2 linked regions of the Homo sapiens genome follow. The protein of the gene in region 1 interacts with the protein of each later gene in a biochemical or structural test. Each region holds a gene or a part of one and is shown on either strand. Other genes may lie near its edges. The genes, in order: PRMT7 and ASS1.

Region 1 (7,281 bases):
AGCCGTGGACGGGGAATGAAGACAGGAGTGCGGTGGAGAGGAAAGGACATGCTCTGCTCCTAGGAACCCCAAGAGAGCTGCTCTGTCCTGACCTGAAGGAGCAGAGATGAGGCTGAGCTAAGAGCAGTACAGCCAGGTGTGGTGGCTCATGCCTGTAACCCCGACACTTTGGGAGGCTGAGACTGGCAGATCGCATGAGCCCAGGAGTTCAAGACCAGCCTGGGCCACATGATGAAACGCTGACTCTACAAAAAATACAAAAATTAGCCAGGCATAATGGCACATGCCTACAGTCCCAGCTACTCGGGAGAGGTGGGAGGATCGCTTGAGGCTGGAAGGTCGAGGCTGCAGTAAGCCAAGATCGTGCCACTGCACTCCAGCCTGGACGACAGCGCGAGACCCCATTTTCAAAAAAAAAAAAAAAAAAAAAAAAAAAAGAGCAGTGCAACCATCTGCTCACCGGGCAGCTCCATGAAAGCTTCACCACACCCTTGATGGTGGGAGCTCGTAGGAGGTAAGGTTGCATGTGGAGGACCCACTGTGAGACTCCAGGGACAGGGTGGGGCCTGGGCTACTTCAGTGCCGTGCTGACCACCCTAACACAGCCCAGCGTGGCCAAAAGGCTCCCGCTACTCACCTTTCTGCCCTGTAGGTCCTCATTTGTTAATAATTCCGGCCGTTTCTCTATGATGTTAATTTTATCTTCCAAGTGGTTAGCCTTGAAGATCTTAGAAAGAAAACCGTAAAATTACTGTATTCATACTAAAGTATTGTGTTTGTCAGGAAAAAAAAATCTCTCAAAGTTGCATTCTCCGCTTTGAATTTTCCGGCAAATGGTTCTGGAACACCACTTTTATCTGCTTTGTGGAAAAATCCTCTCCTTGGGGGGCATCCTATAGACCACGGATGAGATCAGGAGCACAATGTGATAAAAGCAAAAGAAATTTCTCCCGCATGTGCACACCAGGACTCAGTGCGAGCCTGCAGTTCTGGTGAAGGGAGTTCCCCTTTGGAGAGGAAATCAAACCAGTTACTGGCCAGGGAGAGAAATGCCATCTCCCATCAGGCTGTGAGCACTGGCTCCCTCAGCACTGATGTCCCAGAAACACATCCTACATTTAATTCTACCGCAACAGTAGCTTATGTGAAGTGAGGAAAAAAGCCTAAACTTCTTCAGACACAAAAAAACAAAGCAGAGTGCAAATGCCTGCCTCTATTTCAGTGACAGCTCCCAAGGCCTCTGGCTGCTCTCCAGGCAGCAACCAAGACAACACAGGGGTGCAAGCGAGCCACCACTCCTTTGTTCCCCTGGGGCCAATGCCACTTCAAAGCCATCAACCCAGACCCCACAGGTCCTCTCACTATTTCAGCAACAACAATTCTCACTTACTTTTCTCAACAGTTTGTGAGAAGCTGCTGAACTCTCGACTGTAAACACCTAGAGGGAACACCACGCTATTAGTTGTAAGATATTCACTTAACAGAGAAGAAATTAAAGATTAAAATGCGACAAGACCATCCTAAGACAGAGGACACACCTGAACAACCCTCCCTGCCCTCATTCCCTCCCTGGGGCAGCCTGAACACCAGCTCTGAGGCCTGACGCCTGCCTGCACGCACAGGCAATAAACCCCCCAGCCCCTGACCCGAGCATGCTGTGCCCACAACAGTGGCCTTTGCAAAGAGCCTTGATCACAGAATTGTGCACCCGGACCACGCAATGCTCTAACTCACAAGCCCACATCAGGAGGCTGACAAGGGTGCATGTCAGTACCTGCTCCACCCCCAGGTGATGGGCCAGCACGGAGAGCAGGCTGCCATCGCTGACACACAGGCACACGCTGTCTGGCTTCAGCACCTGCGGGGAACAGGCAAGCTCAGCACAGGGCTTCCTCCAGTTTGCCAGAAGATTCCTGCTGGCAAGCTGTCAGAAATACTTCCCTTCTCACTCCACTTGCCCAGACCTCAGACCATCCCCCTGCGTCCTCATGCAGTAACCACCCCCAGCCACAAACATGCCCGCCTTGCTCACATCTCCCCACCTGTCCCCAGTGTCAGGAAAGACACCCCTCAACCCAGCCTAGAGGCCCCGCTGAAGGCCTGCACCACCTGCAGGCCACCTTCCAGTCCATGACAACAGGCTTCTTCCCTGTCTGGTTAGAGCACAGACAGCTGAGAGCCTCCAAGGCTTGAGTGTTCACAATTGACTGCCCAAAGGCAAGGATGCCTTTCTGGGTGACAGACCCCTCTGAGAGAAACTCAGGATGGCTTGGATCCTCCCCCCATCCCCCAAAATGCACACATTCACACCTATTTCTGTACACACCCCCAAGGGCCTCAAGAGACCCTCCCTCTAAGCCCCATCTGTAATCCCCAAGCCGAGTCCCCTGCTACAGGTAGCAGGGAGCAAAGGTTTTCAGGCAGGAGAGCGACATGATCAGATTTACATCTTAGAAAATTTTAGAAAGGTGACAACACATGAAAAGAGGGGGTGGCCTAATCCACCGTGACCACCCACAGCAATGACTGTGTCTGACAAGGCAAAGGTGTCCAGCAGGAGCCCAGCCAGAGGCTCTCCCAGTAGAGCAGAGAGCAAGCCCTCAGGAAGTCCAGCCCCAGGCTCTCCCGCTTTCTGCTCCAGTGCCCACCCAGGAGGCGCTCGCTGAAGCCACTCATAGACAAGAGGACACAGGAAAGAAACAGCAAATCATAAGCAAAGTGCTGGGGTTCATGGGACAAACTTCTTTCTCCCTTTTCCCCACAACAAGCCAAGGGGCTGGACACTTACGGTCCTCAGAGCCTGGACGTATCGATCAGTTCTGTCCTGGTCATTGATCTCTCCAAACCGAGGCCGGTTCCAGAGCAGGTGAGCCTGGCAGTCACACACGGGGCGCATCTGGCGGACTCTCTCATTCTTTTCAGGGCTAGGCCAGGAGATGAACAAACAGACGTGGGCTGTGAGCGCCTCCACAGGTCTCCAGAGGGCATGAATCTGGACACTGGTCTCCAGTAGGCATGAGGGCTTAGAGCACCCGCTAATTCCAGACTTTTCCTACGCATCTGCTCTAAACAGATTCCAGCAACCCATGACAGCCTCTCCTGGGTACACACGAATGGGCACTGACACACTGGTCACAAATCTTTGTTCTTATGTTATTCTGTCCAGACACAAATCAACCCACTGGCACCTCCAGAGGATCTGTAAATGGGGAATTTACATACAAGTCTCAGAGGCTCATCCTCCACCCCCACGAGGCTCGACGTACCTGGTCCTCTGCAGGCTGTACCATACGCAGTAGTCATCGTGGTGGGCTACCAGATAGAGCGCTGAGCCCTGCACCACAGGCTCCTCTTGTGGCAGGAAGTACACACACTGCATCCAGTGGTCCCGCCACTGAAACGGAGAACAGAGTCAGCTGTCAACGAGCTGCAGTATGAGCAATGCTTCTAATCCAGGAGCCAAATGCCAGAGAACTGCCAGTTTTCAGGACGTCCACAATGTAGACTACAGCTGGCTATTGTGGCCAAGGAGATAAATAAACTCTAAACTCAGAGGCCAGTGGCCCAAAAGTTTGCGGGAACCCTGCTGGCTTTAGGAAGACACAATGTGGCCAAGAGCAGCAATCTGCCAGAGTGGCTCAGGGGAGGGGACAAGTGCAGGCTCCAGTCCCCACCCCATCAGAGTAGCACCAAAGCTCTCTCTTCAACACGTAGAGCTGTGCTGAATGTTTCCTTTGAAGGAAAAAAATTGGTTTAAACCTAGTGGTTTAAGGGGAACCTTTTCAGAACAGTCCATGGCACGCATTCCAAAGGCTTTAACGTACTCGGAATTTACAAAACAGTCAGACTCAATGCACTAAACCTAACTGGATCGTAGACTGAGGAAACAAAAGCTATCAAGGACTTCTGGAGACAAATTTTATTTTGAACCATATGTTAGACGATACTATGGAACCACTGTTTTTCTTAGGTGTGATCATGTGTTTCATTTATGTTGCAGACTGTTTTCATTCTTGGGAGATAAGTGTTGAAGTATTTAAAAGTAAAGTGTCAGATGTCTGCAACTTACTTTCAAATGATTTAGCAATAAAAAAAAAAAATGTGCATGCCCGTGTGTGTGTGTGTGTGTGTGTGTAGAGATGCAGGAAGGGAGGCAGAAAGACAAAGATAAAGCAGATGTGGCAAACGTTAACAACTGGTAAATTTAAATTAATAAAGCGACCATCAGTGTTCATTTTCACTTATTCTGTGGATATATAATTTTTCAAAATAAAAAGGTGGGAAAATACAAAAAGGTTTTGGCTTATTCTTTGAATTAAATTGAAGTATTTAAATAACTGAATATTCTAAATTGTGAAACATGGTTGACAATGATCCACGGTCAATTTTTAATAAGCTGTGCTAGTCCTTACTACAAACCCCACATACAGGTTTCTATCCTAAGAAAACCCCAAAAGAAAAAAAAAAGTTATATTCACATAAAAATGCAAATCACAGAATTATTTATACCAGCAAAAACTGGAACCCACCCAAATGGCCAGCACTCAGAACGGGATATAAACCCTCGTGCAGAATACGGACAGACATCTTAAACGCTGCTGCTGAAGGCCACGGGGCCCGGAACAGAGATGAGCACCGATGACACCCACGCGTTTGGAGAGAGACCAAACAAAGGGAGCTATTTTGAGTGAAAGGGAGGACCATGAGTGATATTTTTATTTTATATAATGAGGTTTATTTCGCTCATAATTGTTAAGCCTCTTTTTGAAAAAGGAAGAACTGCCCTAAAAAGTAGATGCCAGCTGGACACGGTGGCTCATGCCTGTAATCCCAACAATTTGGGAGGCCGAGGCTGGCAAATCGTTTGAGGCCAGGTGTACGGGACCAGCCTGGGTAACATACCAGTGACACCCATTTCTACAAAAAACACAAGATTAGCCATGCATAGTGGCAAGTGCCTGTAGTCCCAGCTACTCAGGAGGCTGAGGTGGGAGGATCGCTTGTGCCCAGGAGTTCACAGTTGCAGTGAGCTAAGAGGTGCCACCACAATCCAACCTGAGCAATAAAGCAAGACCCTGTCTCTAACAAACAAAAACAGGAGATGCCTGGCTCAACTCTGATGAGACGACTGCCTGCTCATTCTGTCACCTTCAGGAACTAAGAAAAACTTGGCCCTGTGGGACTCCAAGAGCACAGGTAAGGAATGTGCCCACCCACCTGGTCTTTAATTTAACAAAAAGGCAGGAGAATGACATTCCCACACGCTTAAGACGCTTACTTGAACATAAAAACTAGAAAATGAAAATCTGACCAGATATGTTCTGGAAAAATAAATAGTAACAGGAATAACACAGGTTCTTTTAAACCTTTTATTCATTCCCACACTATGCAAATGCATGTGAAGAAGACAGGAGAACCCTTTCCCGACCCCTCCTAGGCTCCCATGGCACTGCCCTGTCATCATGTCCTTCCCATACTACCTACCACAGGGACCTCCTGGGTCCTAACGTTGAGGAGCTGGTGACAGAACCCACTGTGCCAAGGTGGGACAGACTAAATATACTTAGGATCAAAGCAGTTACATGAATTCATGAGGGAGATTCATTAGCAGCTTTCAAATTTCCAATCCAAAAGTCAACGCTGGTAGAGAAACAACACAAGACCCACAGTCAAGAGACCAGGGGCAGGACCCACTCTACTGCTCCTGGACACAAGGCCCCGCTCCAATCCCTGGAGCCTGCTGAGTCCCGGGTTGGCTATGGTTGTGGTTACCTTGTTTGTCTACTAAGAGGATTCAAGGAGAAAAAATACATAGTAGCGCTCCGAAGATATGCAAATTAAAAGTACTAACTTTTTTTTTTTTTGAGACGGAGTTTCGCTCTTGTTGCCCAGGCTGGAGGGCAATGGTGCAGTCTCAGCTTACTGCAACCTCCACCTCCCAGGTTGAAGTGATTCTCCTGCCTCAGCCCTGTAGCTGGGATTACAGGCGCCTGCCACCATGCCCGGCTAATTTTCTTTGTATTTTTAGTAGAGACAGGGTTTCAACATGTTAGCCAGGCTGGTCTTGAACTCCTGACCTCAGGTGATCCACCTGCCTTGGCCTCCCAAGTGCTGGGATTATAGGAGTGAGCCACCGGCCAAAAGTACTAACATTTTAATGCTATTCTTATGCTAATTCTGCAACACAGTCTTAGGAAGAATGTGACGCGGTGCCAATCTCAACTCTGTGGGTGAATTCAGAGTGACACACACACAGCCTGCAGAGGGATGCTGGCAGGCCCTGGCTGGACACACACACACCCGGGGCCAGGCACCTGGAAGGTGGAGGGGAGACTAGGAAGCTCACATACTTCTTAGTCTCACATGCTGCTGTCGGTATGGGTACGCTGATTGACAGCAATTCCCCAGCAGTCACAACCCTTCGGCCTAAACAGTAACTCTGGGAATGGGGTAGGTGAAGCTGCTAAGGCCTTCCATAATGTTGTGGACACCTAGAACCAGCAGGTGAGCATTCAACACAAAGCCAGGGGTTAAGGCCAGGCAGGCTGGACCATGGACAAAGGATGGTGCCTGAGGCGCTCCTGGGTAGAGACAGGTTCTATTTCTTGGTCCTGAAACCAAAACTGCCTTTGCGAAAAAGTGAGAAAATTATGACAGTGAAAGAGATCTCATCTAACCAACCCCCATTTTGCTTTAATGTCCAAACTGCCCTTAATCATTCCTGGGTCCGGGCCAAGCTAACTTTGGGAGACATTTGGTTAACAGTTTATTTTTTGTTCTTATTATTTTTTGAGACAGAGTCTCGCTCTGCCACCCAGGTTTGAGTGCAGTGGTGTGACCTCAGCTCACTTCAATTTCCACCTCCTGGGTTCAAGCAATTCTCCTGCCTCAGCCTCCCGAGTAGCTGGAATTACAGGCACGCACCACCACATCCGGGTAATTTTTGTATTTTTAGTAGAAGTGGGGTTTCTCCATGTTGGCCAGGCTGGTCTCGAACTCCTGACCTCAAATGATCCACCCACCTGGGGCTCCCAAAGTGTTGGGATTACAGGCGTGAGCCACCACACCCAGCTGGTTAATACTTTAAATGATAACCGTCCTTCCCCAAAATTAAACTTAAACTGAATGAAAGATCATCAGGTTAGGAGGATGAGAGGAGGCTGAATTCTGCTAAGGTGAAGCCATTGTTAGGTCACAAGATCTGCAACCTTCCCTGATTCCTCCTGCAGATAACACCACCTTGCAGAAACTAAGATTGACCCTTTGAAATGTCTTTTCGGG
Region 2 (5,095 bases), on another chromosome or scaffold:
GAGCCCCTGGAGGGGCAGGAGGGCCCTGGTGAGCCAGGGCAAAGGTGGCAGGTAACGATTGGCCACTCCTGTGTCCGCCCCGTGGATGAGAGTGACCTGCACCAAGGGACGAGGTGTCACCTCCAGAGGTCACCTGGCCAAACTAGAGATGGGGCAGGCCCCTGTGGGACAGACAGCCCCCACTAGACGTGGGTCCCCTAAGGCCCAGCTTAGCTCAGGCTAAGGCCAGCCCCTCCCTCCTGGAGGCTGGTTGGGAATTAAAGTACGAGTCTTGTTTGGCAGTCAATATTATTTTTTTCTTTCCCTTCTCCTTGCCATGTTGAGTTTCTCCCCGCTTCAATCTTTCTAAACACTTTATAAGCCATAAATACAACTGAGTCAGTTTAGATCAGTTGGGGTAAATGTCAAATTATCTTCTCTCTTTCTCTCTCTGGCTCTTTCTTCCCTCCCCCTCCAAATCAACAGCCTCTAATAATCTGTCCAACCCTTCATTAAGCCTTACAGTCTCACTCAGGGAGATTAAATGAATAAAGTAAAAAGGGAAAGGGGAAAAAAGAGAGAAAAGCAGGAGCATTTATTCTCACTGTGTCTCCGACCATTTCCCTTTTCTTTTTGATTTCTACATCGCTGACTTGAAAGCCCTTGAGTGACAGCGTCACAGGGACCAGCGAGGAAGCCGTGAGAGGTAGCAGAGCTGGAAATGCCGTGGCTCAGTAGGTAGAAAGTAACGTAATTATAGAGCAGGTCAGAGCCACTCGAATGAGCAAAAATAAAAGCACAGAGGTTTTCTGTAGACCGTCAGGGGAGGTAAAAAAAAAAAAAGAAAAAAATCATTGTAAACTCTTTTTCCACCTCCCCGCTCACTTCAAACCACAATTTTAAAAAGAGGTTTTTTAGTTCCTGAGAAACCCCTCTTGGAACTCCCAGCAGCCTCGTGGGACAAGTTTGTCCCTGGATGTGGGCCCTCTTTGCAGGGGCTGCCAGGGCAGCTGGGAAGTTCCCACCTTGGGGAACGGGATGGGGAGAGTTTGTTGTGACTTGTGAGAGATGGAGGTGAAGGGACAGATGGACACAGAGGTGGGGGGATTCTGTGTCCTACGTTCTCCCTGGGCTGAGTATAGGGGCCAGTGGGGCTGAGGCTCGGTTTCTAAAACAAGGTCTGTTGAAGGGATCTGAGGAGGTTGGTGGTCTAGTTTGGTCTAGCTCTTCCTAAGCACTGACTGCACAGAAAGGGGTGGCCAGCAAAAGTCTGGTATCTCCTCCTCTTCCAGGGAATGCAAGCTCCTAGTGGCTTCAGTGCCTGAGCCCTGGAGGGGCCGTGGAGGTGTGGAGGAGGGAGGAAGGGACATCAAGGAGGTACAGGAGCATGGGAGTGACTCTGCAGAGAGTTCCACGCACCCACCGGCTTCAAGGCCTGGTGAAGGTCAGGGCCCGGGTCCTGAACAAATCACTGGGGCCAGGCAGATGCAGAGACCTCATTTGTTCTTGTAAAAAGTCCACTGTCTACAAAGAACCAGTCAGAGGGCCAGCCTCAGGGTCTCAAAGCAGCAGATCCTCCTGCCTCCCAACACCGACCCCCGCTACCCCTACCTCGAGAACCTTGAGTCAGCTTTGTCCCAAGGCTGGAATTCTGCAGACAAGGGTCTGATTCAGAGCAGGACATGACAAGGGACCCCATCCTCTCAGAGGCTCAGAGGCTGGCCTTGTGGAGTAGGAGGCATCTGAGTCCACGTGCCCTAAGTGCTTAGCACAACCATAATTAATGAAGGCAATGGGTGATTGATTGCTTCGGTCTGGCCCCTCCCTGTGGACACCACTCTTGCTCTTCCTTCCTTGGCACCTGGCCCAGCATCTGGCAGGCAGCAAGGGCTTAATAAATGCCTGAACAAATGAATGAGTGAATGAATACTGTTAGTACTAGTGGGTGCTCACCATGTGCCAGGCACCAGCTACATTATTTCATGTGGGGCCAAATGTGACACTGAGAGCTAACCACCATCACGCATTTCACAAGTGCAAGGCTGAGGCTCCGAGTGCAGGAATACTGGCCTGGGCTCTCTGGTGGCGGGTGGCGGAAACAGGACGCAAACCCCAGTCAGCTGGCTGGAGTGACTGCCATGGTTAGGAAGGTTGGGAGGAGCAGCTAAGGGTGGAGAGCCCCAAAGCAGAAGGCTGGTGAGTCTGAGAGGTGGAAACTGTAGAGAGGTAAAATCTGCTCTGCTGAGTACAGCAGCAGTCAACCCAGCATTTTCCATGACACACTGGCAGTGGGTGCCCAGGTTTCAGGATGGATTAGGTAAGGTCTAACTGGTTGGACACATGAGGGGAAAGGTGACTTGGTGGGCCCATCTCGCTGTGAATGCTGGAGGCCTCCCTGCAGCTTGCGAAATGCCCTTGTGCTATTGCAATTCACACCCCAAGGCCTCCTGAGCCTTCAGGTCACTGCATGCCATCCACACAGTCCCAAGGGCACAGCTGGCTTGGACGAGTTACCCATTTACAGACAGAGTGCTCTGGTTGGTGGAATTCATAGGGCTAGTTCTGGGGTGGCTGCTCCTAGCCTCCTGCCACATTGTGTAGCAGGGAAGAGGCTGCTGTGTGCTCCACTAGGGCTCTCCAACCTTTGGGTGGGTGCCTGGCCCAGAACAGGGTTCCCTGAGTTGTACAGAAATTCAATGGAAAGCCGACGTGCAGGGAGGGTTTGGACCCACACAGGGGAAATGCCCTGGCATCTGGGAGGTGGGGCTGCTTCTGGCCCCAGCAGTCCTCCCTTCAAGCAGAGGCCAGGGCCAGGCTGAGCTGACAAGCTTCTACTCTCCTTGCAGCATGAACGTGCAGGGTGATTATGAGCCAACTGATGCCACCGGGTTCATCAACATCAATTCCCTCAGGTGAGAAGCTCAGGGCCCTGACGGGCCTTCAGAGCCTCCAGGTGTAAAGGGTAGGCTTTGAGAGCCCCCAGGTGTAAAGGGTAGGCTTTGATGCGACCTTGACTGCTGCCCTGCCCTGCCCTGCCCTGCCCTAGACAAACCCCACTTTCCTGTCCATCTGCCCATAGCATCCTCAGAAGCATGCTTTGATAGCCGACAGTAACAGAGGGTCCTAGGCATTGGGGTCCTAGGTTCCTGTGTCCCACCGGGTGCCTCTGATACTTGCCCTCCCCTCCCGCTAAGCCACAGGGACTCCACTATGAGCTCCTTTGCAGGGCAGGTTAAACAAGGAAATAGCATAGAGGTGGAGAGAAGCCTTTGTTTTCTGTCACCATACCTGAGCTGTAGGTCTAGCTGGAAGCCATCCTAGCCACGTGGATCTCCATGGCCCAGGAGGGTGGTGCACGTCATCTGAAGTCACTCAGACCTTTGATCCTCTGTGAGTCACCAGTAAGAGTGTCAGCTGTACCTGCCTCACAGATGCAGTGAAGGTTCAATATGAGCCTGTGGAAATCAAGCATGCGGCTCAGGCTTAGACCCTGGCATGCAGGAAGAGCCAGGGGCAGTGCCAGCAGCAAGCACACTCAGCCCAGGGCCGGTGTGCTCAAGGGCAAACAGGGTCGTTTGTCACCAGCAGCTAACATAGACTAAGCTGCTCTGGGACACTCTCCTAGGATGTCTCATTTAATTCTTACACAAAATTTGCAACTCCCCGGGAACAGGCTGAGTGGTTAAGTAACTTTCCAAGGGTCACACAGCTAGGAGGTGGTGGAGCTGAGTCCGGAGGGCCTGTCCTGCTGTGGGTTCTCCATCACCAGCTCCCTTCTCATGGGGATTGGAGTCTAGAAGAAGATGCAAGTCAGTCTCCTCTTGCTAACAACATGCCCTGGGCACAGAGCCATCATTTTCTCCCAGAGCCAGTCTCTTGTCCCTGGAGGCACCTCATGCCCCGAGAGATGTTGAAGCCCGCCCATCTGCCCAGGGTCCTCTCCCTTCCCCTCCGTCACCTCCACCTCCCCTGCCTCCTGCGCCCTCTGTTTGTATTTTATGACTCTATAAACCCTTTTAAATGGCCCAGAACAAACAGGGCTTACATAGTGGCCTCTTCATTTCTCCTATTGCCAGTTAAACGCTTTGTCTTCAACAATGACAAACAATGTTTTCCCCCTAAGATAAATTAATTACATTATCCTGATTGGAGGGCAGGAGGGGCCAGGGCGGGAGAGGGAATAGAAAAAAAGGCAACTTCACACACATCTTAACAAACAGCTGCCCCAGCCACCCCAGCTCTGCCTGAATTAATTGAACCCAGTGTGTGTTGTTATTGTTAATTTACATTTTTCTTTGTTTTGAATCTGGTTTACAGGCTGAAGGAATATCATCGTCTCCAGAGCAAGGTCACTGCCAAATAGACCCGTGTACAATGAGGAGCTGGGGCCTCCTCAATTTGCAGATCCCCCAAGTACAGGCGCTAATTGTTGTGATAATTTGTAATTGTGACTTGTTCTCCCCGGCTGGCAGCGTAGTGGGGCTGCCAGGCCCCAGCTTTGTTCCCTGGTCCCCCTGAAGCCTGCAAACGTTGTCATCGAAGGGAAGGGTGGGGGGCAGCTGCGGTGGGGAGCTATAAAAATGACAATTAAAAGAGACACTAGTCTTTTATTTCTAGTGAGTGTGTGTGTGTGTGTGTGTGTGTGTGTGTGTGTGTGTGTGTGTGTAGTTAATTATGGTTTTCTTAGGCCAACCTTTGTGTTTTCGGACCTAAGTGCTGCCGAAGGCCGCCATTTGCCAGACAGCCTGTTAATCTGGCAGTCGACCCCTCTCCAGCAAAAACTAGGAATCCAGAAGTGCCGCCTGGGTCCGATCCTAGCCAGCATCCTGGGAATCTGTCACCAACTGTGGTCCTGTGGCAAATGTCAGGAAACCAAATAAAATTCAGGGAATGCCCTTTGGGGGCATCAACGCACAGCCCTTTCTCTGGACATCACTTTTACTCACAGCCCACAGGGAGCTTCTATAGAGGGTGGCCATGAGTGACCCTAGGACACTTACCACAGCTGCATGGCCTAAAGCAGCCTAAATCATGAAGGAGGAGGGAGAGGCCTGAGCAGAGAGGAGAAAAGAGCAAGCCCGGAACTTGGCAGCATTTCTCATTGTCCACAAACCAG

What was found.
Region 2: the proteins of PRMT7 (region 1) and ASS1 form a complex in vitro, tested with the Homo sapiens proteins (one study listed by IntAct).

What each region holds. Positions count from the first base shown.
Region 1 is NC_000016.10:68,341,788-68,349,068, reverse strand, and holds part of PRMT7 (protein arginine N-methyltransferase 7), read right to left. Parts: intron 3,395-7,281; coding exon 3,267-3,394; intron 2,925-3,266; coding exon 2,789-2,924; intron 1,859-2,788; coding exon 1,775-1,858; intron 1,439-1,774; coding exon 1,391-1,438; intron 728-1,390; coding exon 638-727; intron 1-637. UniProt on the Homo sapiens protein: Arginine methyltransferase that can both catalyze the formation of omega-N monomethylarginine (MMA) and symmetrical dimethylarginine (sDMA), with a preference for the formation of MMA.
Region 2 is NC_000009.12:130,496,680-130,501,774, forward strand, and holds the end of ASS1 (argininosuccinate synthase), read left to right. Parts: intron 1-2,825; coding exon 2,826-2,891; intron 2,892-4,296; coding exon 4,297-4,342; 3' UTR 4,343-4,595; downstream 4,596-5,095. UniProt on the Homo sapiens protein: One of the enzymes of the urea cycle, the metabolic pathway transforming neurotoxic amonia produced by protein catabolism into inocuous urea in the liver of ureotelic animals.